Linked DNA regions of Homo sapiens: region 2 is linked to region 1. A link means that fine-mapping ties the variant in region 1 to the expression of a gene that starts in the linked region. Tissue or cell type: atrial appendage. Region 1 holds a variant in brackets; the other region holds the start of a gene. All regions are shown on one strand. Distances are from middle to middle.

Region 1 (2,677 bases):
TTAGATCTGCCCCAGGCCCAGTGGAACAGAGCAAGGAATGTCTCTCTGTGAATCCAGGTGCTGAGGTGTGGAGGCCCCTCTGGGGTTAGAGAGAGCTCTGGGTACAAGGGCTGATCAATTTGGAAGCAGATTGGGCACTTTGGGTCTGGAAAGCCACCAGGTGTTGTCTCTTTGGCCCCTGGCTGGTTGCGGTGTCTGTGATTCTGGGCTCTGGTCCTTCTGGACTAGGATGGAGGGTGCGGTGGGGAGAGTGTTAGTCTCCTCGCGTTTGGTCAGATCTCAGCCAGAGAAGAAAGCCAGAGCTGTGTCCTCTCTCCTTCCCTTCACTGCCTTCCCCTTCTCTCCGATTCCAGCCTCTTCCTCCCTGTCCTCTCTCCTCTCTCCCGCCTCTCCCCCTCCCCTCCTTTGTTCCGCCCTCTCCTCCTCTTCTCCCTCCTCTCTCTCCTCCTCTCCTCCCTCCTCTCTTCCCTCTTTCCTTCACAGAGGACCTCAGCCTTCCATCAGAGAACAGATTTCTTCTGACCATTCGATCCCCAATCTGCCTCCCTCCAGATCGGTGCTGTCCAGTGCGACATTCTGTGATGGTGGAGTTGTCCTCTCTTTGTGTTGTACTATAGAGTAGCTGCCAGCTGCCTGTGGTCATCAAAGTTCGGAGGAATGGAGTTGTAAAAAGAATTATTTGACTCTCGTTCTGTCACCCAGGCTAGAGTGCAGTGGCGTAATTACGGCTCAAGTGATCTTCCCATGTCAGCCTCCCAAGCAGCTGGGACTATGGGCATGTACCACCACACCCAGCTAATTTTTATAATTTTAAAATTTTTTTAGAGACGGGGGTCTCAGCACATTGCCCAGGCTGGTCTTTAACTCCTAGGTGATCCTCCTGCCCTGGCCTCCCAAAGTGCTGGGATTATAGGCATGAGCTACCATACCTGGAATTATTTATTAATTTTGTACTTATTATGGGCTACCACAAGTGAAATTATTTAATTTGAATTAATTTAAATTGAAATAGCCACATGCACTTAGTGACTACCATAGTGGACATCAGAGCTGTGGGTGATAATAAGTGCTGGATTCCTGGGAAGTCCCTGGGGGTGCCCCCACCCTTGTTCAGGCTCTGTCCCTTCCTCAAGTGCCACTGTGTAGATCCAGGGTCTCTGCTGTGCCCAGCCTCCTGTACAGCACCCGAGAGAGGCCACAGACGACTGGGTTCTGGACTTGAACCTGGGTGACCTTGGGCAAGTCACCAGATCTGTGGGTCTCTGTGGCCTCTTCAGTAAAATAATGAAGATGATTTATTGCAAGCCTCAAGGTTTGTGTTTCTTTGGGCAGGAGCCTACTGTGATCAGAGCTGGGGGAGCCAGTGTGAGCAGCAGGGTGAGTGG[G/A]GTGTGCATGGGTGTGCACGCTCAGGGGGGTGGGGGGCTTGAGGGGTGGCAGGGGGACCCTACGGGATGTTGCTTTTCAGCCTGGCGCTGCCTCGCTGAGTAGCCTGAGACTAGGAAAAGGCTTAAAGAATTCACAGTGGGAAGGCTGCAGCCTGACTCTGCTCCTGGCCGGCGTTTGCCCGCTGCCTGGCCCTGGCTGTTCCAACGATGGACTTCCTTCCTCTTTGGCCATAAAAGTCTCCCGGAAAGCCTTCCCACAGAGGCCCCGGGGGCTTTCTCAGGGAATGTGTGAGTGTGTGCTCACACAAGCACTGTGGAGCAGGAGCCCAGGGCCGCGTGCAGGCTCTCCCACAGAGCTGTGGGTCCTGGCGCTGGAGGAGAGGTTCGTCCCAGCCTGGGTGGAGAGCGGAGGAAAGGCTGGCCCTTGCCTGGACTTGGGCCCTGGCTTATGCAATGCTCAGACTCTTAGTCAACTTCAGCAACTGGGGCACATCCACACGCATGTGCACACACGTGCAGGCACACACCCGGGCAGGGAGGTGTGAGGAAGGGAGACCAATGAGCCTGTGCCAAGCTCTGCTTACAGATCTCCCCAGATCTGGAGAGAAAAGGGGAGCCCTTCTCCAAGAGGGGGCTGCGCTCAGGCTGCTAGGGTATGATGATGGCTCCAAGCCTGTGGCTGAGGTTGGATGGACCATTGAGAGGAGCCCTCCAGGGTGAGGGGACAGAAGCCCATCAGTCCGTATTGATGGAATGTGGCTACAGTGTGGAGAGAAGAAGATACTTTCTCTTCCTGCCCCAGAAGGTACCCAAGCCTCCGGGATGCTGGGTCACAGAACCCGCCTGGCAGAGAGTTGCATCAGAGCGAAACTGCATGCTAGATGCCTGAGGGGAGAGGGCACTGAGGACTTGTGATCCTAATTTCCCAACCTTCAGCTGCTCAGGGTCAAGTCCTTAGGCTCCACTTGCTCTTCTCCCCTCCCCAGCATTCTTCTGTACTAGGTTGCACATGATGAGGGTGGTCTGAGGGGAGAACAAGGAGGGGGTGTGACTCAGAGTTCACCCGGCTGTCAGCAGCCCTGAGTCAGAGGGAGGGTGGGGAGGTGGGTGGAACAGCTTTTGGTAGTCTTGGGGTTCCCTATAAGCAAGAGCATCCCAGAAAAATAGAAGAGAGCCCCCCAGAAGCTACGAGGCTCCCACATGCAGGGTAGGCCTTTTCTCGGCCACCACTACACACCCCAGGAGAACAGGAGAGGCCTCCACGAGTCCTGGATGATTTAGGTGCGGACTTG
Region 2 (2,677 bases), 180 kb after region 1:
AAAAGAAAAACAAACATTTTCATGAACAGTAATGTTTGTGAAAATTCAAAGGTACAGAAGAGAGTAAGTAGTCAAAGTTCTTTTTCCTCCTCTCTCATTTCTCACACGTGGGCTCAGTGGGGTGTCCCCCTCCTCAGCCACCAAACTGGCAGGGAGGTTTGGCATCAGTTTGGCCTGGGGAGTCCTCAGGATGACCCACAAGTCCACACAAATGAAGGCTTGCTTTTCTAACCGGCAGAGTTGGTGAGGAGAGAGCCGAACGCCAGGCTTTCCAGCTTACCCAAAGTAGAAGCAGCTTGTGCCCTTGGAAGGGAAGAAGCCAGCCTCGTCACCCAACTCCATCCAGTGCCATGATCCCTAAAGGGCCCTGCACAAACGCTCCTGGGTCCTATCACTGACAAAAACCTCTCACACAGGAAGGGTCTAATCATACACCTTCTTTCATTCAAATGCCTCTTTGTTGGGGTTCTGGGGAGAGGGGGCATTCAGGCTGCAGGGAGGGATGGTCTCTCTCTGGGTCTCTCTCTGAGGGTCTCAGCCTCCTGCCCCCACAAAGACCCCCCAGGTTTGGAGGGCCCAAGCAGAGCCGACCACATACACAGCCCTCCTGGTCCTGGGAGAGGTGCATTCTGGAAGGCAGGAAGGAGTCTGTTTCTAAATCCCTTTCTCAGTGCCATCCTCCATCAAGGTGGTCTCCAGATCTGACACGTGTTCTGCCTTCCCATAAAATCAGGCTCAGGAGATGGTGCTTCTTGGTTCTGGATATACCCCTCCCTGCCATCTACCTGCCTGGTAGCCTCTGTGCCTCCCGCCTCCAAGCCTGCCCTGACTTACTGGCAAAAGAGGGTGTCCTCGTCCAAGAGGGCCTCATGGGCACACGGGCTGTTCTCATCCTCGTCTCCAGTGACCACCATCATGAGACCCAGTAACAGTGCTGCTGTGACCAGCCTCATTGTCCAACCCATGGGCACCTGGAACAGAAAGAACTTTAGAGCGGCTGGATCCCCTGCAGGGGCCTTCCTGCCCACTACCTGTGCCCCCGACCCCAGGGGCCCACTTGGCAGGATAGAGACCTCTGGTTAAGCACAGGGAGAAGGACAGGCAGCTTCCAGGGCTCCGCAGCTAATCCAGTCCACCACCCGGACACAAGTACTTTGGGAGGACTGGGCCTCTTCCAAGTTGGACTCAATGTACGTTCCTGGCAGAGGCCCCTCCCCTGGCAGGACACAGCTTTGTTGTCACTCTTGTCCTGGCTGCCAGGGCAGAGAGCAGGCTGCAAAGTAGAAGTGCTTATATAAGCTCCTCGGTGCAGCTCCTTGTCCAGTCCCTGCTGTTGGCCCAGGGATGGTCAGCTGGCCAAAGGCCAGCCTGCTCCTTGGCTGTAAGGCAAGCCCTGGGAAGCTGGTGACCCCAGGCTCAGGGCTAGGAGTTGGGCTGTGCCCCTCAGACCGGCTCTGACTCTCCTGGCCCCCATTCTTCCACCACCTGTCTCCACAGCCTGTGAGCTTCCCCAAGGTGGAGGTGGTTGGACACAGTGACCTTGTGTAGGAGGGACTGCTGCAGGGGGTGGGGGTAGGTGCACCCCAGACCGAGGCCAGCTCCGAAGGGCCAGCTCCGAAGGGCCAGCTGAGGACAGAAGGGTGCGTCTGGGTGCACCTTGCAGCTGTGCTGCACTCAGCACTCTCCCAAAATAATCGTATCTGGAGAAGGAGGTCTGGGGAGCTGCTTGGGGCTCAGAAAGGGGTGGCCTGCCCCAGCAGTGCACTGGGAGGAAGGGGAGCCGGGGACTGTCGCCTGCATTCCCTTGGGGAACAGTCCTGCCACCAGGTGCATGTGGGACTCTGGTTTGAGCCTGAGTGGGCAGGGAGAAGAATAAAGGCGGCTTGCAACAGGCTTTCCAATAGCTCTGCTCTCTGCTTCTCAGAGGCGGGGGTGGGAGAGACGTGCCAGCAACTCAGGACTCCTGGCTTCTGCTCTGAGCTCTCTCTGGATGCTGGGAGGCCACTGTGTCTCCCTAGAATGCACCACTTTTCCTTTTCACAAACAAGTAAAATAATTCCTGTCACCGTGGTGCCTTGCTAAGGAATATGAGATCATCGCTGTAAAGTACACGCAGCTAGACCTTTAGAGAAACTACTTTCAGCATAGTCTGCTTTCTGGCTCAATTCCTGCCTCCAGGATCCCAACCTGTAGCAAAAAGCCCCCCTTAGGGGCTACATATTAAACACATTTCTCAATCATTAGGTTCTCTGAAGTACAACCAGGACTCCCCCTTGCCCCAACCAGAAAACATATTCCCAAGATCTCCCCTAGTGGACAGAGTCTAATAGTAGCCTCCTCACAAGATCATTATGAGAATGAAATCAACCAGGTTAAGCCCTCAGTAAGGTGCCTGGCACATAGTAAATGCTCAATAATTTATGAATAGTCTAAGTATTCTCTCACGGATCCATCCATTCATTCATTCCTTTGCAACCCACTTCACTCATAGGCATTAAGCACCTCCCACGTGCCTGCCCCATGTTGGGCCCTGGGGTATAGGTTGAGCATGCAGCTCACAGGACAGCCACAGCCAAGGAGATGCTGCCAGAAGGGCTGCCCAAGACCAAGAAACTCATCTTCCAAATGGCATCCACTAGAGAAGTCTCAACTTTTCTGGGTGTCAACTCCTTTAGCA

What was found. PIP is the estimated chance that this variant, and not a neighbour inherited with it, causes the effect.
Region 2: it holds the start of PEBP4, and the variant in region 1 is fine-mapped to the expression of PEBP4 in atrial appendage (GTEx, PIP 0.91).

What each region holds. Positions count from the first base shown.
Region 1 is chr8:22,746,194-22,748,870 of GRCh38, forward strand. The region is part of intron 4 of PEBP4 (phosphatidylethanolamine binding protein 4); the gene reads right to left. It overlaps LOC124901908 (a long non-coding RNA gene), which reads left to right. Exons shown (of 3, transcript XR_007060855.1): 3 at 1,333-2,677. Among named protein-coding and RNA genes, the nearest start is that of EGR3, 54 kb to the left of the region's middle. The variant G/A (reference allele first, on the strand shown) is at 1,386.
Region 2 is chr8:22,926,750-22,929,426 of GRCh38, forward strand. PEBP4 (phosphatidylethanolamine binding protein 4) reads right to left here and starts at 1,165. Exons shown (of 7, transcript NM_144962.3): 1 at 1,074-1,165; 2 at 835-971. The coding sequence starts at 965.